Homo sapiens: one gene and its partners. The protein of the gene in region 6 purifies or fractionates together with the protein of the main gene of each other region. This does not show direct contact. Each region holds a gene or a part of one and is shown on either strand. Other genes may lie near its edges. The genes, in order: XPO4, KIF1A, KIAA1549, ATAD3C, MGAT5B and PLEKHM3.

The links.
Region 1: the proteins of PLEKHM3 (region 6) and XPO4 purify together in Homo sapiens (affinity purification with mass spectrometry; one large-scale study listed by BioGRID and IntAct). This does not show direct contact.
Region 2: the proteins of PLEKHM3 (region 6) and KIF1A purify together in Homo sapiens (affinity purification with mass spectrometry; one large-scale study listed by BioGRID and IntAct). This does not show direct contact.
Region 3: the proteins of PLEKHM3 (region 6) and KIAA1549 purify together in Homo sapiens (affinity purification with mass spectrometry; one large-scale study listed by BioGRID and IntAct). This does not show direct contact.
Region 4: the proteins of PLEKHM3 (region 6) and ATAD3C purify together in Homo sapiens (affinity purification with mass spectrometry; one large-scale study listed by BioGRID and IntAct). This does not show direct contact.
Region 5: the proteins of PLEKHM3 (region 6) and MGAT5B purify together in Homo sapiens (affinity purification with mass spectrometry; one large-scale study listed by BioGRID and IntAct). This does not show direct contact.

The regions. Positions count from the first base shown.
Region 1 is NC_000013.11:20,780,747-20,784,246, forward strand, and holds part of XPO4 (exportin-4), read right to left. Parts: intron 3,174-3,500; coding exon 2,976-3,173; 3' UTR 1-2,975. UniProt on the Homo sapiens protein: Mediates the nuclear export of proteins (cargos), such as EIF5A, SMAD3 and isoform M2 of PKM (PKM2). In the nucleus binds cooperatively to its cargo and to the GTPase Ran in its active GTP-bound form.
Region 2 is NC_000002.12:240,764,720-240,768,219, forward strand, and holds part of KIF1A (kinesin-like protein KIF1A), read right to left. Parts: intron 2,627-3,500; coding exon 2,547-2,626; intron 2,303-2,546; coding exon 2,196-2,302; intron 1,075-2,195; coding exon 991-1,074; intron 1-990.
Region 3 is NC_000007.14:138,971,390-138,974,889, forward strand, and holds part of KIAA1549 (UPF0606 protein KIAA1549), read right to left. Parts: intron 1-3,500. UniProt on the Homo sapiens protein: May play a role in photoreceptor function.
Region 4 is NC_000001.11:1,466,689-1,470,663, forward strand, and holds the end of ATAD3C (ATPase family AAA domain-containing protein 3C), read left to right. Parts: intron 1-1,695; coding exon 1,696-1,842; 3' UTR 1,843-3,475; downstream 3,476-3,975.
Region 5 is NC_000017.11:76,934,404-76,937,903, reverse strand, and holds part of MGAT5B (alpha-1,6-mannosylglycoprotein 6-beta-N-acetylglucosaminyltransferase B), read right to left. Parts: intron 1-3,500. UniProt on the Homo sapiens protein: Glycosyltransferase that acts on alpha-linked mannose of N-glycans and O-mannosyl glycans.
Region 6 is NC_000002.12:208,019,028-208,022,527, reverse strand, and holds part of PLEKHM3 (pleckstrin homology domain-containing family M member 3), read left to right. Parts: intron 1-1,839; exon of another isoform or gene 1,840-2,059; intron 2,060-3,500. UniProt on the Homo sapiens protein: Involved in skeletal muscle differentiation. May act as a scaffold protein for AKT1 during muscle differentiation.

The DNA of each region.
Region 1 (3,500 bases), on a different chromosome or scaffold from region 6:
TCTAACAGAGATGGCCACCCTGAAAGACCCAAATAATGGTGCTGGAAAGGACACTGTCAAATACTGTCAGGTAGTTTTGCTACTGAGGCAGCCACTCATCCAGCACAAGGACTATAAAAGCAAATCAATCCTTTTAACAGAACAAGAACACAGTTACAGGTGCTACCACATTAACAGACTGTGAAAGTACAAAGTCTTTAGTGATTGTGCCTTGGGAAATAAATGGGTCAAGGAAAATAAAATGAGAAACAAACAAAGGATGTATGGAAAACTAGAGGTTAAAGGATACTATATGAACAACAGAAATTTTATAAAACAAAAATCTAAAAATGAAATACTTGACAGTGTCCCTTTGACATATATAAAAGAGGGCACAAATAATGTTTTTGTTTTAAAAAATATTTTAACAACAGTTTTAATAGAAAAAAAATCAACTGACTTGAATTAAGCCAGTGTTCTTGACACCCACTGGGCCAAGAGCATTAAAACAAAACAAGACCGGAGAAGTTAATAAACACAGCTAAAGACAAAATTGGACAAAATAAAACAAAAGAAAACACAAAGTGAATAAGCATCCAATCAGGCAAACATGGACACAACCACCCTGAAAAGGTCTAGCCGTTGCAACTCAGTGGCATCCCCATCACCTAAAAAATGGTAGTGGCTTCTCCCCACCCCAGTGAGCTAATATTCAACATTCTGCTGATCTTATAAGTATTATTTGGTCCAATCTGAAGAAGGTCTTTTTAAACTAAAACTAGTCTAATGAAATTACACCTCAGGAATATGGAGGTGAAATTTTCTATTTTTAGTATTGTAATAGGATCTGGGCAAATTTTGCAAATATGTTGCCATCTGGATAAAAGTTATTAAATATAGATGCCTTTTTACTTACCAAGGCATTCCTTTCCCACTCCTCTTTAGTTTTAATAACTTGATTATAGTTTTGTCATGGCGCGTGGACCTGTCCAGTCAATTGTGTGTTTCAGTGCCCTTTGGTAAAGAGACTGTACTTAGCACACACACAGATACACATAATTCACAACAGCTGAGAAAGCTTGAGGGATCTGGGAAACACAAAACACCAAGAACAATGCAAAACAAATAGATTACTGCTGCATATCACTTCAAGTTTTTTAAGGGGAAAAAAAAAACACCTAAAAATAAATGCATCAAAGTATTTTTTAAAATACAGAAACGTGTACTTCTGGATGACTGATATTAATTTCCTTCCTAGCAGTCTTTTCAAGATGTTTTTGCTTCCCCTTAATTGTGACTCAAAGCTAATCAAATTGAGAGAAATGTAAGTTATGGCCCAAGGCCCTGCATTCACATCTACCTAACATCACATGCACAGGTTGGATGTAATTCAGATGCTCCAGTTTTGTTAACTGTTAATAACACAGAATTATACAAAGTTTTGCACAGCATCACATGTAATGACACATATGCTATATGCAATCAGGTAGAAAAACCGTATTTGCAGAATGGTTTAATAGATAGGTGTCAGGAACATGGTGGAAGCAGAGTTTCATGAGTGCACCTGTGCCAGAGTCCTCTACCTGTCACTGTGCTGTGAAAGTACTGCAATGAGTGGAGTTTCATATGCCTGCTGTGTATAAATTAGCTTTCATTTCCACATTGTAAGCTGGCACACTGAATTAGGGGAGCCTGGCAGCTGTATAAAAATCCTGATTAAGAGATCAAACTAGAGGATCTAAAGTGAATTTTTAATCTCTGAAATTAAATTCACTGGCTCCCATGTCTGGATAAGAATTATTGCCCCTAATGCCCCAACGTGCAATAGTCTGTGTGAATCAGTGATTCACATCCTTTAAAATAATTATTGCTTAAGCAAGCCATTTAGAGTAGATATGGGCTATGTGGCTGGATAGAAACACACTCAAAAAGTTAGACTAGACGGAAACAAGCCTTTCATTTCACTGATAAACCTACATAAATACACGATCGAAAGGGGCAACAGGTTCATAGCAGCTAACACCCTAAACCAACTCTGAAGCATCAAGACGTGGTTTCTTACTAAAACAAATCAGCTGTTTTTGTATTTTCCTCTTAAAATTAAGGCAATGAAATGGCTACAGTTCCTAAGGTTATTTTTACGGAACAAAAATATACATGTATTTTCCTCCTCAAGTTCAGGCATCAGAGTATGATTAGTGACTTGTATTACACAAAACCTGCAGCACTGGGTTGATGTGAGAGAGAGAGAGAAAAGAAAGAGAGAGACAGAAAGCAAGAAAAGCAAGAAAGCAAGCAAGCAAGAAAGCAAGCTAAGAAAAAGCCAACAAACCCCTGGTGATGTTTCCCCTTCCTGCTGAATTATAAAACCCAATCATCAAAGGGAGGAAAAGCTAGAAAGCACAAAACCTCTTAAGAGTTTTCAATGTCTCTTTCATTGATTCAAAACTTTTGGGGTGACGAAAGGGAGAAGCTTATTAACATGAAGACTCCTGGGCCCAACAACCAGACATTCTGACTCTGAAGGTCTACAGTTGGGCCTAAGAATCTGCCTTTTCACCAGCTCCTCAAGTGATGCAGGCGATCTATGGAGATTTTGAGAAACACTGCCTAGCATATATCCATTTCATATTTAATGACAAAAATTCTAAACTTTGGCTAGCCACCTATGTTAAAAGGAAAAAAGGCACTGCATATGTATTTCGTGGTGCCCATATCTGTTTGCACATATATGGAATTTCATTTTGAAAATTTTAAATCACCATTCAGAATCTAAAAGACATATATATGACAGATTGTGGCTAACACTTAACAGCAGAAGCTGATGCCAAGTTGACCTCTCCTGTTTCACTGTATTACATACATATCAAAGTTTCAGGCTCTCCAAAATCCAAAATGGCCAAATGAACTGAGGAATAGGACAAGACTCAAGTCAACTTTCAGCAATTCAGTGCACTTTGCAGAAAGGATCTAAATTAAGCATAAAGTTCTGTTGTTTATTTTACACAAAGGAGACCACCAACATTTGCCATAAATTCTTCTAAACTCTTTAAGAAGGCCATCTTCTGCTTCCGATCCAGCGTAGGAGGAGTGCTGCTTGCAGTGAGCTTGTTGAAGGCATCTGCTAATCTCTGGTAAATAACTGGGTCTTGCTGACTTGATAGTAATGTTTCGACCAGTTCAGAATATTCAGCCTATTGAAGAGATAAAGTATACACAAGTATCCTCCTTAGAATATCATACAAGTAGATCTTATCAGTTACTGGACTGTGGGGTTCTAAAAGGCAGGGACACATTTTTAAGAGTTAACATTTAGAATAATTCAGCATTTAAGTACTACTGTTTGAAAACCTTTTACATGGATTAATTCATCTATCATTTACAACAATGCTTCGAGACAGGTACTGTTTCTATTCCCATTCCAGAGGTGAAGGTTTCGACACTCAGTGAGGTGAAGTGATATGGCCCAGATCAAGCAAGAGTCCACCAATCTAGCCCCAAGACCCATGTGATAATCAACT
Region 2 (3,500 bases), about 33 Mb from region 6:
GTGTGGAGGTTTCTGCACATGTGCTCCACACCTGCAATCAGCTGATGGAAATCAAGGAGGCCCCCAACGGTGGGGTGGGCCTCATCCAAGCAGGTGAAGACCTAAGAGCAAACTGGGGCTTCCTCTGAGGAAGAAGAAACCCAGCGGATGGAGTCCACTCCTGCCAAGTTCCCACCCTGCCCCGAGTTCCCAGCCTGCCCCGAGTTCCCAGCCTGCCCTGAGTTCCCAGACTGCCACCTGCCCATGGATTTCAAACTTCGCTGACCAGCCCCACCATCTGATAAGCCAATTCCTTGAAATAAATCTCTTTATACCTAGACATGGTTGTACGTTATCTCACTACATCTCGGTACATGTCTACAGCCATGTCTGTGCATCAGGCTGCTGCTGTTTCTCTGGCAGAACCCTAACTGCGTGGGCAATAGTCACACACCACTCAAGAGGGCCCCCTGTCTGACTGTCTGACTTCTCTAAAGAAGGGACTTTATGCCACGTGTGCCTGCACGTGTTTGAACATCACAGACACTGCAGTGTCTGGGAACAGAGCCCAACCCCACCCGGGGTGCTGCATTCAGAGACTGGAGCAGCCCACCCCACTGAGCTCCACAACACCTCAGCTCTGGGAAGCCCTTGTCCACTGCCCTGTATCCCCCAGACCAGCCCGACAGGGCAGAGTCCTGGGCCAGGAGGCAGGAGCTTCTTCCTAGGCAGGCACACCCTGGCTCCTCACTCAGCCCACAGCACGGACTCAGTGTCTCGGGGCCCCTGTGTTGTGTGAATGGGGCCTGTAGTGCTGTGTTCCTGGAGTTGGGGGACTGGGGAGGCACATGAGCTGCTTGGATACCCGCAGCCCCCTCCCCTACCTGCCCAGCGGCCCTTAAGAGCTGCCATCCCGCACAGTGCACAGGAGGCGGTGGCTTGGACATGGGAACAGAGGCCTCGCCTCATGCCTCTGCCTACCTGACTGGCCCCCGGAGTCCCCAGCCATACCTGAACGCAGGATGCTGGGCTCTGTGACTTTCTTGCCATTGACGTAGGTGTCTGCCCCCTCACAGGGCTCCAAGGTCACCACAGCTACAGGAAAGGTGGGAGGGGCAGAGAGGAGGACTATGAGGGGCTGTCACCTACAGCAGCTCGGCTTACCTGGCCCCCGGGCATGGCCTCTTCCAAGCCTCTCGCCTCTCTTTTCCCTGCTACACAGGCCGTGACCATTGGCAACACTCATTTGGGCCTCAGAGGAGCTTAGGGGTCTCACCCCACTTAACAGAGGAAGAAAGTGACCCCCAGAAGGAGGATGCATGTGCCCACGTTGAAGCCAAGAGGCTGTGCTGGGCCTAATCACCCAGGGCCCTGTCCAGCTCCCCAGGTGGACAAGGATAAAAACACCAGCTAATGGGGCCTGGGCCGTCCCACAGGAGAGGGTAGGCAGGGCTTTGCAGTCAGAGAATTCCAGGAGAGCCAATCGTCCCAACACCACTTAGGGCCATCACCCTGAGGTGGCCAAGTTGGACAGTGGGTGTCAGTCACAGGTCTGCAGGCCAGAGGCTGGCTGGATGCTGCCGGGAGATGCCCTTAGCCTGGGCTGTGGGCCATGTGACGGCACACTGACACCACAGGCCCATCCCCAAGTTGGGCAGCACCAGGCAATGGGGACAGCCCCACGTCATCTCCAGGAGGGAGACCACTGGGCAGGCAGGGGAAACGGACAGATGGCCGCCCACAGCCAACAGGAAACCAAGGTCTGGAAATAGTTTTCCACCCTAGATCTGGGCTCAATCCTCATGGCTCACTGTCCTCCCGCCATGAACATCCTCCACCCTGGGCCCCAACACGCTTCCCGGCCAGCAGCCCACCTGTGCCCCCACCTCCAGCCCTCAAGGAGGCTCAGCTCCCTAAGGCAGCAGCTACCCCTGGCCACAGAAAGTACCAGGCATTTTCCCAAGCACCAACCTAATGGAAGTTGTTTTTAAGGCTGGCCCCAAATATCTCTCTCTCTCTCCAAATCTCTCTCTCTCTCTCTCTCTCTCTCTCACACACACACACACACACACACACACACACACACACGTCCTGCCTAGAAGTATGACTCGCGACCCACTTAGTGCTGGGTAAGCTGGGAGAGGGTGACCTCATTCAGGCCTGATCATCACGGCACAGGGGCATGGGTGCGGGTAGGGACGGTAGGGTGGTGATACCTTCGCTGCCTCCCCTGGAGTCGCTCCGGAAGACGCAGTGCTCCTCCTTGATGAAGTGCCCACTCAGAACAATGTCCTGCCGCCTCTCGCCATCCTCCCTGCCCACTCTGCGGGGTGGGGGCACCATCAGCACGGCAGCTGGGACCCAATACACCCAGGACGCCACCCACTGGCCTCCAGGGACGCCCAACCAGGATTGTTTGGGAAACACCCAGCGCAGACATCAGTGGGGTCGCTGGGGAAGTCCAAACTCAGTGGCCCCTCTGCAGAAGCAGGAATGGGGAGTCCAGCCTTCCCCTGCCAGATCCCAGGGCCTGGCCAGGCTGGAGTGGCTGCCAGGTCCCCTCTCACCTGGTGATCCCATCCTTGATGTAGTAGAGCAGGCACTCAGACATCAGCGGGTCCTCGTTCAGGTTGACGAGGTGTGGTGTCTGCAGGGAGACAGGAGGATCATCTCTCTTGCAGAGGGGCAGGAGCCTGATGCTGGCCACACCCCCCTCCAACCTCTCTCCAGGCACCAGACTACCACCAGGGTCCCTGCCCCCGCACTTGGCTGGTGCCACCAGGCTGGTCACTCCAAGCCAGGAAAATGAGGAACACAGAAAGCTCAAGCCGAAGGCCCAGCCCACCAACAGCAGCAGGCCGGTGGGACCCGACCACCCGCATACACCCAAGCCTGGCACAGCAGCCCCAGCACTGCAGCAGAAGCTGAGCTTCCAGAAGGGCAGACAGCCCCAGCTCTCAGCATGTGGGGGCCCTGGGGCCCTCTGAGGCTGGGGTGAGCCCCCAGATGTGCAGACCACAGGCTTTGTCCCATGGGGTCCTGGGTTCCCAGCTTTGGACTGTAAAATGGGGTTCTAGGACCCCATTCCAGCTCAGACAGCCCAGAAACCATGGGTTCACCAGTGGGAGCCAAGAGCCAAGAAGGATCAGGACACTGACCATGGAGGGCTCAGCCCTGGAGTCTGGGGAGTGAAGCAGTTGTGAAGGGATCCTTGATGAGCCACCTGAGGCACCCCCATGCAGAGAGGTGGAGACCTCGTCACTGGACGAAGGGGACAGACCATCCCCAGCTGTCCCTGCCCCCTGAGTGGGGAAGATGTCCAGCCAGGAGGGGCTGTGCCCACAGCTTTGGGGCTGAGTAGGGGCTACAGCCTTGGGACCCCACTGGCCTGTGCACGTCTCGTGATTCCCAAGAACACTGAACTTCTCAAGAAGGGGGTCCCCAGTGGTCCCACTTCTGGGCAGTGCCCAGACCCAGGGCAACCAATAAAGCTGCACCCCTGGAGTTCCACCCTATCCCTC
Region 3 (3,500 bases), on a different chromosome or scaffold from region 6:
CTCAAATGAATGCCTCCACTCTTGCCCTAGATCCCATCCCTTCCAAGCCCCCAGGAGCTTTCACTCCTGCCCTCTCTGCCTCCCTTTCCAACCCCACCCCAGACTGGCTTCTTCCTAGCCCTCACCTGCACAGATGGCCTCCACCTTACCACTCCCTCTTCCTACGTTATTTCACTCCTTGCACACACACAGCACCCTTCATGCCGCAGAAGCTGGCCCTCTGAGGGGCTGGGTCCTACCCAGTCAGCGGCTGTCACAACAAAACCCACCCCCTAGGGTTGAGAAACCGTCTTACAGCTGGACCTCAACCTCGAGAGGGCAAAACTCAGCCTCCAAATCACATCACTTCCCTTCTCTTGCTGGAAAGATCTTCTCGGTCCCTTTCAGTACCAATATGTGGAATATTCTGCACCTTCCATGCCCATTTTCCCACATCCTAGACACCCAACTCCTGCCCTGTACACCTGCTATCTGAGCACACAGGCTTTGACTCAGACGTGGAGCGTAATGAAAACCATGGGGGCCACTGCAGACAGTCAAGCAAGGAGGAAGGGACGTGACCTGTTCCTAGCAGGCCCTTCCTGCTGAAGGTGGAGGATGAACTGGAGGAAGTGAGAGGAGAAGTAGAGGTCGTGACAGTCACCTGGAGAAAAGAGGATGGGAGCTTGAATGAGGGCAGTGGTGGCAGCGATGGTACAGCAGAAACATTCAAGACGGACTTCCTCCCCTCCCATTCACAGTCCTCTGGGAACTTTCTTTCACTCACTGAGGGGCTGGTGCCTGGCTCACAGTCCTTTCTTCCTCTCTCCAGGCAAGTTCAACATCCACAGAAGTTATTCACCCCAAAGCCTTCCTCCATGTTCCACTTCAACAACTCATTCCCACCACTACACCCTACCCTGTTCATTACCCAAGACCAAAACTAGAGATGACCCACTTCTGAAACTCGGCACAATGACACCCCAATCCCTCCCGCCCTCCCCCACCTCTCTCTCAACACCTGCCCTGGGATCTCAGCTGCACCCCCTCCTCCCAGTCCCTTTCCCACTGCTCCAGCCACGGTTCACCTCCTACCTCATCCAGACCACCTCTTGCCAGCTCCTTCAATCCCCTTTGGCTCTTCACACCTGCCCTGTGATTCCCCATCCCTGACTCGGGCCAATGGCTCACCTTTCCCAGACACACTGGAACGTCAAGTGCTAGAGGACAAAAATCACACGGTGGGTTCCCTAACATCACCACAGATACCCCCATTACCTTGGACTTCACTCCCAACCTTCCACCAGTCCCTCCGATTCCTTCTCCCAACATTACTTCTTCCTAACTCTTCTTAGGGTGGTCCTGCCTGCCCAGGTGAACCTCCTCACTTTTGGTAAATTAGCCATGAGGTCCTTCCTTCTACTTCCTTAAATTGTCAACCACTGCTTTTGTTTTGTTTTGTTTTGTTTTTGAGATAGAGTGTCGCTCTGTCACCCAGGCTGGAGTAAAGTGGCACAATCTCAGCTCACTGTAACATCCGCCTCCCAGATTCAAGTGATTCTCATGCCTCAGCCCCCCGAATAGCTAGGATTGCAGGCACCCGCCACCACACCTGGCTAATTTTTGTATTTTTAGTAATGGCGGGTTTTCACCATGTTGGCCAGGCTGGTCTCAAACTCCTAACCTCAAGTGAACTGCCTGCCTGGGCCTCCCAAAGTGCTGGGATTACAGGCATGAGCCACCGCGCCCAGCCCAGTCACTGTATTTTTACTGACTCTTGAAGCCTACAAACACAATCAAGTCTAAAACATGTTTTTAAAACTTCCACCAACCCTCCTGCCACCATTAAGTTATAGGGAATAACTCAAACCTCACCAGGCCTAAGAATAACATAAAGAGCTTGTGGAACATTTCAAAAATACAAATCCTCAGGCATCACCTGTTTCAGTAGAGCTGGCTTGACCATGAGTTGGGTTTTTAACAGGTGATTCTGATCAGTTGGCCCTCATCCCATCCTTCAAGAAACAGTTTGGTACAGTAGCATTTGACATGATGGATCACTCACCTAGAGGAAAACTCTCTCCTCCTCTCCTGGCTCTCATATCACTATTTTGTCATGATGGTCAGTTCCTCTGTATGCTCCTCTTTGTCTTCCCCTCTCCTTCACGCTAGTTTCAGGGTTTCTGTCCTCAGCTGCCTTGTCTACTAACTCTCCATGCTCCCCCCTCACTAGTGTCTTCCATATCTATGACTTCAACTACCATCAAGTACAACATTTAACAAGCTTTTTTTTTGTTTTAAGTTCTTGCTCTATCACCCAGGCTGGAGTGCAGTGGCACAATCCCAGCCCACTGCAGCCTCAACCTGCTGGGCTCAAGCAATCCTCCTGCCTCAGCCTCCCGAATAGCTGAGACTACAGGTGCATGCCACCATGCCCAACTAATTTTTGTACTTTTGTAGAAACAAGGTCTCACTATGTTACCCAGGCTGGTCTTAAACTCCTGAGCTCAAGCAATCCTCCCGCCTTGGGCTTCCAAAGTGCTAGGAACACAGGCGTGAGCCACCGCACCCAGCCTAACTTTTTTTCTAAGTACTGGATCTGGGATAGATTAAAAATCAATGAATGAATGTACAGGTGATAGTCAACACAGTTAACAGCAGTGGAGCACGAGCACTGACAGTCGGAAAGGGAGCTATTCTAATTTTACAGGTAAAGGATCTGAACAGACATTTCTCAAAAGAGACACACAAATGGTCAACAGGTAAAGAAAAATTGCTCAGCATCCCTAATCATTAGGGAAATGCAAATTAAAACCACAATGAGATAGCACCTCAAACCTGCCAGAATGGTCTTCAGCCAAAAAACTAAAGCAGAGTCCTTGAGGCACCTGCTGTGCTGAGCATTAACCCTTCAGTCACTGGATCTCGGTGAGGTGGAGGGTGGCGGTGGTCCTTGGGAGAAGAGTCCTGAAAGAGGGCAGGGAGGCTCAGGGTACTTGGGGGTGGGGAGCAAGGAATATTCAGTACAGCAGCTATTTACCAACTGCTATGGTAGTATCTCAGTGGTTTGGTTTTGTTTTTTGAGACAGAGTCTCATTTTGTTGCCCAGACTGCAGTGCAGTGGCGCGATCTCAGCTCACCGCAACCTTTGCCTCCCGGGTTCAAGCCTCAGCCTCCTGAGTAGCTGGGATTACAGGCACCCACTACCATGCCTGGCTATTTTTTTGTGTTTTTAGTAGAGACGAGGTTTCACTATGTTGGCCAGGCTGGTCTCGAACTCCTGGCCTCAGGTGACCCACCTGCCTCAGCCTCCCAAAGTGCTGGGATTATAAGCGTGAGCCACCACATCCAGACTGTATCTCAGTGTTTTTACAACCAGTCAAATGCTCGCAATGAATGAAAACAGCAGGTCTAGGGGACAATTCTAATCTAGTTGCCTGGTCAAATAAAATATGGTTCTTGCACACTATTTACACAGACTCAGTCCCAAAAGCAGGTGTCTCTCAAGGTCTCTGGAGATT
Region 4 (3,975 bases), on a different chromosome or scaffold from region 6:
GTTGAACTGTCCTTGCATTCCAGGAATAAATCCTGCTTGGTCAGGGTGTGGAATCCTTTTATTATACTCCTGAATTCGTTTTGCTGGCATTTTCTTGACGACTTTTCCAACGATGCTCATCAGGGATATTGGCATGTCATTTTTCTTGTGGTGTCTTTGGCTTTGATATGAGGGTAATGCTGGCCTCTTAGGATGAGTGAGGAAATGTTCTTCAATTTGTCCAAGAGTTTGAGGAGTGGTACTGATTCTTCTTAATGTTTTGTGAATTCACATGTGAAGACATCAGGTCCAGGTCTTGTCTTTCAACTTTTATAGTTTGAAGATTTTAGGTTCCCAGAAAAGTTGCAAGAGTAGCACAGAGACTTCCTGGGCCTGGGACCTTGCCACGTGGTGAACATCATGTGTCACTGTTGGACCCACCCGCGACCAGGTTTTGCCCCAGAATCCCACCCAGGAGGCCACGTGACATTTAGCTGTCACTTCTGGTGGGCTCCTGCCAGGTCCCGTGCTTCCTGGAGGGGTGGCTCCGTGAGCATCTGCTCACCCCCTTTCCTCTGCTGGGCCCTGGGTGAGGTGCAGCCACTCGGGTGGACCCTGAGGGTCCCTGCACCTGTTTGCCCTCTCTTGGGTGGGCTCAAGACCAAAAATGATGTTGAGCAGTCCTGGGCCCCTGAGCCACAGTGGCGGTCCGGCTCCGGTCAGTGTCTCCTGCGCTCCCGGGCCCCCGACCCACAGTGGTGGTCCGGCTCCGGTCAGTGTCTCCCCACACAGTGGCTCTTGGTGAGGGATGGGCGCTGGCAGAGGGGACGGGCACCACGTGGTCATCCCCATGGCAGGTTCTATCGTGGTGACGGTGTTGTGGGAGGATGGTGTGCTGCTGCCCCTGCACCCCGTGAGATGAATCCTGCCTCTGGGAGGCATAGCTGGGATGGGGCTAGGGACCCGCTCAGCTGTCCGGGAAGGGTCCCCTGCCCTGTGCTTCCTCCAGGCGTCCTGGTGCGCTCTTGAGCATGGCGCCCAGTGGGGGTCCCCACACCCTCACCCTGACCCATGGGTGCCTCCCCTTGGGGACTCCATGCCCTTTGCTGGCATTGGGATGGAGAGTGACCTGTCCATGGCAGAAGGGCTGGACCTGAGGCTGCCTGAAGCCACACCAAGGGCCACAGCCCCAGCAGCTCCAGCCTTCACATGCTAGATGCCAAGCCCTGTGCCCAGGAGGACAGGGAGGTGGGGGCAGAGGTGGCCTTGGTGCCACCAGCCACGTGCCTCAAGGTGGGCAGTGGCTGCCTCTGCCCTGGAGGCCTGTGAGGGTCAGGGTCTGAGGGTCTGAGGTGCACTATGACCCGGGGGCACTGCCTGACCACGGCTGAGACACGCAGAGGGTCTGCAGTTCCCACCTGCCTCTGGGAAGCTGCCCTGGGTCGGCCGTCAGTGAGGCTCCGCCTTGGGCTTTCTATTAGAAAGTCATTGAGCAACATTGGTGCTGAGGACGCAGGCAGGGCTGTGGGCACTGCAGGGGCTGCCCCCGGTGTCCACACACGTGCTGGGCTCTGCCGAGGTGCGGGTAGCCTGTGTTTCACGCTCAGGCCATCCTGGAGCCCCTGGTTTGGTCCCTCCCCACCTCAGGGCCCTGGCGTGCATTTGGGGTGGGGGGTTCCCATGGCGGCCTCCCTCAGCTCCCTCTCTCCCCACTAGGCCACGGCGTATGCCTCCAAGGACGGGGTCCTGACCGAGGCCATGATGGACGCCTGCGTGCAAGACTTTGTCCAGCAGCACCAGCAGATGATGCGCTGGCTGAAGGGGGAGAGGCCTGGGCCCGAGGACGAGCAACCCTCATCCTGAGTCCATGGGGAGACCACACCTCACGGAGCCTGGCCGCGGACCCCTCCCACCCCTGCCTTTGCGGCCCCGCACATTTAGGAAATACTCCCCGTAATAAAGTCCCACGGGGGCCGCACCGCTGTGTCTATTGGCTGACACGGGGCGGGGTTTGGGGCCCCCTAACGTCCCCCTGGGGTCAAAGGTGACAGAAAAGGCAGAAGCTGGGGCTTTCTGGAGGATTTAACCACAGAGGGGTGGGCTTCACAGGAGGTGGCTGCCACGGCGGGGCCGGGTGCCCGTGCCCCATCCTGAGGCCGTGCATACGCGGGTGCCCCTTCGCCTCCCTCCCCTCCGCCAGAGCTGCCTGTGGCCAGACACACGGTGGAGGGAAGTGCACGCGAAACAGACACAGCGGCTTCAAATAGATGCCGCCCCTGCCCGCGCTTTGCAGCTAGTCCCTGCAAACCTTGATGATGGGGCTGGGCGCGGTGGCTCACGCCTGGAATCTCAGCGAGGCCAAGGAGAGTGGATCACCTGAGGTCGGGAGTTCCAGACCAGCCTGGCCAACATGGTGAAACTCCATCTCTCCTAAAAAAAAAAAAAAAAAAAAAAAAAAAAAAAAAAAAATTAGCCGGCCGTGGTGGCAAGTGCCTGAAATCCCAGGTACTCAGGAGGCTGAGGCAGGAGAATCACTTGAGCCCGGGAAGTGGAGGTTGCACTGAGCTGAGACCATGGAATTGCACTGCAGCATGGGCAACAAGAGTCAAACTCCCTCTAAAAAAAAAAAAAAAAAAAGGGCCAGGTGGCACATGCCGGTGGTCCCAGCTTCTTGGCTTGGAGGCTGAGGTAGGAGGATCGCCTGAGCATGGGAGGCAGAGGTTGCAGTGAGCCAAGATCGCACCATTGCACTCCAGCCTGGATGATAGAGTGAGACTGTACCTCTAAATAACCAAAACCTTGATTACAGCCATGGGGTGGGGGTGGGGGTCAGGGGCGTCTGACTATGGCTGGGGAACTCATTTGGTTTTTCTCCTCTCTTATTTTTTTGGGTAGAGACAGGGTCCCTTTGTTGCCCAGGCTGGTCTCCAACTCCTGGGCTCAAGCAATCCTCCTGCCTCGGCTTCCTAAAGTGTTGGGATTACAGGCTTGAGCCACCGTGCCTGGTCTGTTTTTTTTTTTTTTTTGGCAATAGAGTCTTGCTCGCCCAGGGTGGAGTGCAGTGGTGTGATCTCGGCTCACTGCAACCTCCACCTTCAGGGTGTCAGGCCTCTGGGCCCAAGCTAAGCCATCATATCTCCTGTGACCTGCACTTATACATCCAGATGGCCTGAAGCAACTGAAGATCCACAAAATAAGTGAAAAGAGCCTTAACTGATGACATTCCACCATTGTGATTTGTTTCTGCCCCACCCTAGCTGATCAATGTACTTTGCAATCTCCCCCACCCTTAAGAAGGTTCTTTGTCATTCTCCCCACCCTTGAGAATGTACTTTGTGAGATCCATCCCCTGCCCGCAAAACATTGTCCCTAACTCCACCGCCTATCCCAAAACCTGTAAGAACTAGTGATAATCCCACCACCCTTTGCTGACTCTCTTTTTGAACTCAGCCCGCCTGCACCCAGGTGAAATAAACAGCCTTGTTGCTCACACAAAGCCTGTTTGGTTGTCTCTTCACACAGATGCACATGACACAGGGTTCAAGCAATTTTCATGCCTAAACGTCTGGAGTAGCTGGGATTACAGGCGCATGCCACCATGCCCAGGTTAATTTTTGTATTTTTGGCAGAGACGGGGGTTTCACCATGTTGGCCAGGCTGGTCTCAAACTCCTGTTTTCAGGTGATCTGCCCACCTCGGCCTCCCAAAGTGCTGGGATTATGGGTGTGAGCCATTGTGCCTGGCTGGCATTTTCTGGCTTTTTTTTTTTTTTTTTTTTTTGAGACAGAGTCTCACTGTCGCCCAGACTGGAGTGCAGTGATGAGATCTCTGCAGCTGTGTTATATGTAAATTTTCTGTGCCACCAAAGAAGTAGAACTCGAATATAAAGTTTTCTCAGCTAGATAATTTACTTCTATAGAAGGGGGGGTCTCATAGATGGAGCAATGGCAAGCGCTTGGACAAGGGAGGGGAAGGGGTTCTTATTCCTGACGCGGG
Region 5 (3,500 bases), on a different chromosome or scaffold from region 6:
TCAGAAGATGTGGACCCAGTCTCAGGTTGGCCATTAACTGGCTGTGGGACACTGGGAAAGGCCCCGCCCCTCTCTGGCCCTGAAAACCTATGAATGGCAGAGATTGGACTAGAGCAGAGGCTTCAGGATTACTTTTAGCCATGAAACTGTTTTCTTTCCAAAGGAACCCTATGGGGACCAACATTTAAATGGATTCACGTGGTGCCACTTGGCATCTGCTGAACCCCTAATGACCTCTAAGCTCCTCTGAGGAGCTGTGGAGCTCTCTGTAGTCCATTCATCCATCTCTCTCTCTCACCCATCCCATCCATCCTATCCATCCATCTACCCACCATCCATCCATGCACCCACCATCCATCCATGCACCCACCATCCATGCATCCATCCATCCATCCATTTGTCCACCTGCCCATAACTCTATGCGTCCACCCACCCATCCATCCATTCACCCATCCATCCCTCTCAAACATCCACCCATCCACTCATCCACCCACCCATTCATCCATCCATCCCTCTCACACATCCCTCCACTCACCCATCCACCCATCGACTCATCCATCTATCCATCCATCCTCTCATTCATCCATCTTATCTGCCCATCCCTTCTTTCACTGAAGGAGGGGGACCTCTGATGGAAGCTCCATATTTGGAATTAGAACTCAGAGGAATTCCACCCTAGAGAAAAGGATGAAACAGAGCTAGACCAGTCCTTGCAGGGGCTGAATCCATTTTGTCTTAATCACCATATTGATCAAGGTGATCCGAGATTGCTAGGGCCCCCAGCTATAAGCCAAGAGTAAAAGTAAATTCTCTCTGGAGTAAAATAGAGTCATCCTTGATCTTAAATTATCTCTACAATTTTTCATATTCATTTTCCAGAACTCAAAAAAAAAAAAAAACATTGAAATCCCAATCAAACTCCCAGTACTTTTTTGTAGAAATTGATAAGCTGATTCTAAAACTCATTTGGAAATGCAAAGAACCTAGAATAGACAAAACAACTTTGAAAAAGAACACAGTTAGCAGGCTTATATTACCGATGTCAAGACTTCTTATAAAGCTACAGTAATCCAGATAGTGTGGTATTGGCATCAAGATAGACAAACAGATCAATGGAACAGAATACAGACTCCAGAAATAGACCCACACACAGTGTGGTCAACTGATTTTCGACAAAGGTGCAAAACATTTCAGTGGAGGAAGGATGGTTTCATCAGTAAATGGTCATGAAACATGATATCTACACGCAAAAACGTAAAAGAACTTTTTACTTATTATATGTAAAAGTTCATGCAAAATGGATCACAGACTTAAATGCAAAACCTAAAACTATAAAACTTATACAAAAAAACAGGAAAGAAATCTTTGTAACCTTGGGTTAGACAAAGATTTCTTAAATACAACACCAAAAGCACAATCCCTAAAAGAAAACACTGGACTTCATTAAAATTAAGAACTTTTCTCTTTGAAAGACATTGTTTTGTTTGTTTGTTTTTGGGACAGAGTCTCCCTCTGTCGCCCAGGCTGGAGTGCAGTGGTGCGATCTCGACTCACTGCAACCTCCGCCTCCCAGGTTCAAACAATTCTCCTGCCTCAGCCTCCTGAGTAGCTGGGACTACGGGCGCACGCCACCACACGTGGCTAATCTTTTGTATTTTTAGTAGAGATGGGATTTCACCTTGTTAGTCAAGCTGATCTCAATCTCCTGACCTCGGGATCCACCCCGCCATGGCCTCCCAAAGTTCTGAGATTACAGGCGTGAGCCACCGTTCCCGGCTGAAAGACACTGTTAAGAGAAAGACAAGGCCAGGCGCAGTGGCTCATGCCTGTAACCCAGCACTTTGAGAGGCTGAGGCGGGAGGATCGCTTGAGCCCAGGAGTTTGCGACCCGAATGGGCAACATAATGAGACCCCGTCTCTCTGTCTCTATCTACATATATATATATATAATGTATATAATATATAGTATATATAATTATATAATATATAATATATATAATGTATATATAATTATATAATATATAATATATATAATGTATATAATATATATAGTATATATAATGTATATAATATATAGTATATATAATTATATAATATATATAATATATATATGTTTAAAAAGAGAGAGACAAGCCACAGACTAGAAGAAAATATTTATAAAGCATATATTTGATACGAGACTTGGATCCAGGATATATAAAGAACTCTAACAACTCCATAGTAAGAAAATAAACAACCTAATATTTTCAATGGGCAAAAGTTTTTAAAAAGACACATCACCAAAAAAAAAAAAAAAAAGATATATGGAAGACAAATAAACACACAAAAATATCTTCATCATTAGTCATTAGGAAAATGCTAGTTTAAACCACAAGAAGACACCATTCCATGCCTGTTAGAACGGCTGAAATTTACAAGACTGACCATCCCAAGCATTGATGAATTTGTTCAAGAATTGAAAGCCTCGTAATAACTTTTAAAAAAAGTTAAACACACTTCTACAGTATTAACCAGCCATTATATTCTTGGGCATTTACCCAGGAGAAATGAAAGCATATGTTTCTACAAAAAATTGTACACGAACCAAAAAGGCTAGTCAAGACTCCCTGAGTTGGCTTCACAATTTATCCATGGGTTGCCACCTACGGATTGAAAAGTTCCACCCAAGCTCACCCAGATGACTGTCTGAGGGCCTGGAATGTTTCCTCCAGGGATGAGGGTGGGTTTGCCCCGGGCCTGAACCAGCTGCCTTTGCCTCCTTCCTGCTTCATTCCCTTGATCCTTCACCCCTCGCTTCCTGGGACTACACTCTACTAAAATAGCACCTAAGCCTTAGCCTCAGGCTCCACTTTCTGGGGAATGCAGAATAAGACAGACCCGCTTAGCACAAAGTTCACCCAACGCCTTGCCCTGGGTCCCCAGCTCCTGCTCCCTGGAAGGATGATAAATGACCTGACCTTCCATCTCCCCTCCTTCCTCCTCTGCTTCTCGGCCACCTGATCCCCTGTACTCTGGAAGGCATCTCTCCCAAGATGCTGCTTTCATTTTTCTCTCCATCCAGCCACCTCTGACTTCCTTTGGTTACAAACACCAGGGCAAAGATGTCTTTTTTTGGAAGCAGTTTCTTTGAGGTCTCTAGCTGAACAGGATTGCCTCGGGCTATCACAGAAGTTCCAGCGCTAGAGATAAAACGTTTCTCTTTCCAGACTTCATAACCTCTCATTCTCTTGGGCCAGTTTCTTAACAGCATTTTCTGATAAAAGTAGACCCTGTGTGTTCCACGACCCTCCGACTCTGCCCTCTTCTCCAGCACCCAGTGCCCACAGCTTCCCGGGCTTCCCTGCAGCTGTGGCAATCGGCATGGGGAGCCTCATCTCCCAGCTCCCCGCTCCACACCCCACAGTGACCTCTGACATCTCAGCAGAGGTCTTGGACCTTGATTCCTGCTTTCAAGCCTTCTCTCTGCCATTCTCCAAGGCTTCATAATGCTGAACAGGCTG
Region 6 (3,500 bases):
AGCCACAAGGAACTAGATTCTGTCAACAATCCCAATAAGCTTATAACTGGATTCTTTACCTGAGTTTCTATTAATAGATAAGAGCCCAGCCTGGCCACCACCTTGGTTTCAGCCTTGTGTGAGAGACTCTGAGCAGAAAACCCAGCCAAGCCCATCCAGTCTTCTGACCTTCAGAACTGTGAGAAAATGAATAGGTGTTGTTTTAAGCTACTTAAGTTTGTAGAAATTTGTTATGCAACCATAGAAAACTAATACAGAAAGAAAAATTGAAACAATAGCAAAGTATCATTTTTTCCAAATCTCAAATTAACATAAATTTTCAAAAATCCTCCTCAACAGTTAGTGTGCAGTGCAGCAGACACTTGCAAATGCTAGGAGGGATGCACACTTGCTGTAACCTTTCCGAACAGCTCATTGGTGAATGTATGAAAAGCCTCAATGATGCTCCTACCTTTTGACCCAGTTAATTCCACTTCTAGGGTCCATCCAAAGGAATTTATCAGAAATATTTTAAAAGTTAATGTTCAAAGATGCTCAATATAACTTTATTTAGGAAAAAACATATGTAATAACCTAAATGCCCCAAAATGGGAACAAATTATGGTGTCATCAATAGATACAGTGTTATATAGACACTAAAAAGGATTTTTTAATGAAGAAGTTTAGCAGTGTGGAAAGGTGTTACCAATGATTGCTAGGTGGGGAAAAATGCGTATCTATAGTAAGCTCTGAACTATGTTTAAAAAAACAAAATCTACATAAGGGCTGAAAGGGCCACAACGGGGCAGTGCTTTTTTCCAGTGGAGGGTGAATAGGCATTGTTTATTTTGCCTTTTATTCTCTTTCGTATTTTCAAAATGACAAGCAATGAACATGTAGTACTTATTTATAATCACAAAAGTCAATAAACATTATTTTAAAAGCTGTTAAGTCTCTACATTGTGGGGAATACAATGACTATAAAACATTGTACAGTCAAATACTGGAGATAATAAAATCCATAAATAATGTAATTATGTGGCAGAAAGTGATTTTTTAAAGAAAACAAGATATAGAAAACAAATTATAATTGAAAAGATTGAAAATAAAGTTGGAAACTTATTTCTCAGTAGGGTAATAAGTGAAAGCTTCATGGTAGAAGGATCGCTGAATGTCATATAGAAGTAATAGAAAAAGGAGGCACATGGCTGAATGTTCATTAAAAGTATTTGTTTTCTCATAGATTGATGGATTTAGGTTTTGGGCTATGGACCCAGGTTAATTATACTAGTGGAAAACAACTGTGAAGAATATGTAACCATTTACAGAAAAAAATGGTGCCTGATTAGGAAAACCAAGCTGGTTCTAGCCCAGTAACATCTTCATTAAAAAACATCCAAGGCTGATATTTACTGAATATTTATGAGATACTTGACATACTCTATTACAGTTTAATCTTGTATATAGCCTTTGCTTAAGACTTGAAGTCATTCATTTACATATTTAAAAAGTAGGCAGATAGACAGGTGCTAATTTAATTACTAGTTTCAAAAGGCCTGACTTTAATGGGAACTTGGAGAAGGTTAGACTGGGCAGTTTTTTTAGGATTCTTTATCTCTAGTCAGTTTCCAGCAGCATCAAGCTACTGCTGCTGTTACTTTTATTTTCCCATTGTCACCCTATCCTATTTCACCTCACCCTCTCCTCCAACACCCCTAGAAAAGTACAGAGAGTGTCTGTGGCCCCATTGGTTGCTGGCCAAAGGCTGATTTGCTTCAGCAAATGTTAACCCCTTAAAATAAAAAGTCTGGAGGGATATCTAGCAAGGAGTTTTTTTTTCTTCTTGCGTTCTCCTTTCAGAGTACATTTGGCATTTGGTTCATAAGGAACTGAACTACATCCTAGCTTGGAGTTTCTGATGCAAGCCAATTAATTCAGAGAACTCAGTGCTGAGTGAGAGCGTGATAAAAATGACCACCAGCAATAAATTCCATGCATTATGTTTGCTCTGTTTCATTGGCTACTGTGGGATCATACCAGACATTGAAAAACATGCATAATTTGCCTTCCTGCTGACAAGGTAAAAGTTTTATTTGTTCCATAAGTAATTAATCTTGATGACAGTATGAGTTATGAGCAAAAACCAAAGTCAAAATATGGAGGCAATTGCATTAAGATGTCAGGCATGCTGTTTTCATTAACATTTTGTTTGTTTTCGTACACTCATTAATTGTTAATCTGAGTTATGTGGTTCAAATAGAATCCTTCAATTATATGCCACATTTATGACCATGGTAGAGATTTACTTATCCAGTTCTCCTGACTAGTGTAACCAGTTTATAATTCAGTACAAACTAAAGCTCTTCTGTCTCGCATTAGCCAGTTTACCTGTGAATACTTACGTAACTGGGAAATTGTTAAATATCCACTTCACCTTGTGTTCTGTAGGTGTGATTATATAAATGTTGATTTTTCAGTCACAGAACAAAAAACATGTGTTGCAGGTTAGAAACATCAGAAATATAACTAGCAGATTTTTTGCTCCAGGAAATTAGCTGAATGATCTCCTCCTACATGCTCTTGATCCACTTTTACCTGCACTATAACATTTCCAGAACAACTTCTCTTCCACGTTCAGGGATTCATTAATTTGTTAATTCAGCAAGTAAGGATTGAGCACTTGTTTTGTGCCATGGCACAGTACTTGGAGCTAGGAATGAACAAGACAGGCACAGTCCATGCCTTCATGAAGCTTACAGTCTAGTGAGGGAGACAGACAGTAAACAGGCCATTTGAAAATAACTTGCGTGCTCACTTTGGCAGCACATACATTAAAACTGGAACAACACAGAGATTAGCATGGCTTCTGTGCAGGGATGACATGCAAATTTGTGAAGAGCTCTTTCAGATAATGTTAAGATGTATATGGTTTATACAAATGGTAAAAAATTATAAAGTTAAAAAAATAGCTTGAGATGCATAATAATGGAGGAAATCTGGGTGCTATGGGAGCATATAAGAGGCCATTCAAAATGGACCTGGAGGTCAAGAGAGATGTGATTCCTCGTCAAGGACTGGACAGCTGAATTAGACTTAGCCAGGTTGTGTGTGTGGGTGGGAGGTAAGGAGGGGACAGTGTTGATAAAGAAGATGAGGGTGATGGTGGTGGAAAACAGTGTTCCAGGCAGAGGAAACAGGATAGGTGAGAAAGCAAGTGGAAAATTCCAGGTTTGGTTTTGTTTTCAGACAGGGTCTTGTTCTGTTGCCCAGGCTGGAGTGCAGTGGTGTGATCATAGCTCACTGCAGCCTCAAACTCCTGAGCCCAAGCGATCCTCCTACCTCAGCCTACTGCATAGCTAGGACTATAGGTTCACGCCCCCATGCCTGGTTAACTTTAAATTTTTTTTTTTTGTAGAGATGGGGGTCTCACTATGTTGCTCAGGATGGTCTTGAACCCCTAGCCTCCAGCAGTCCTCCCATCTTGACCTCCCAAAGTGCTGGGATTACAGGTGTGAGCCACC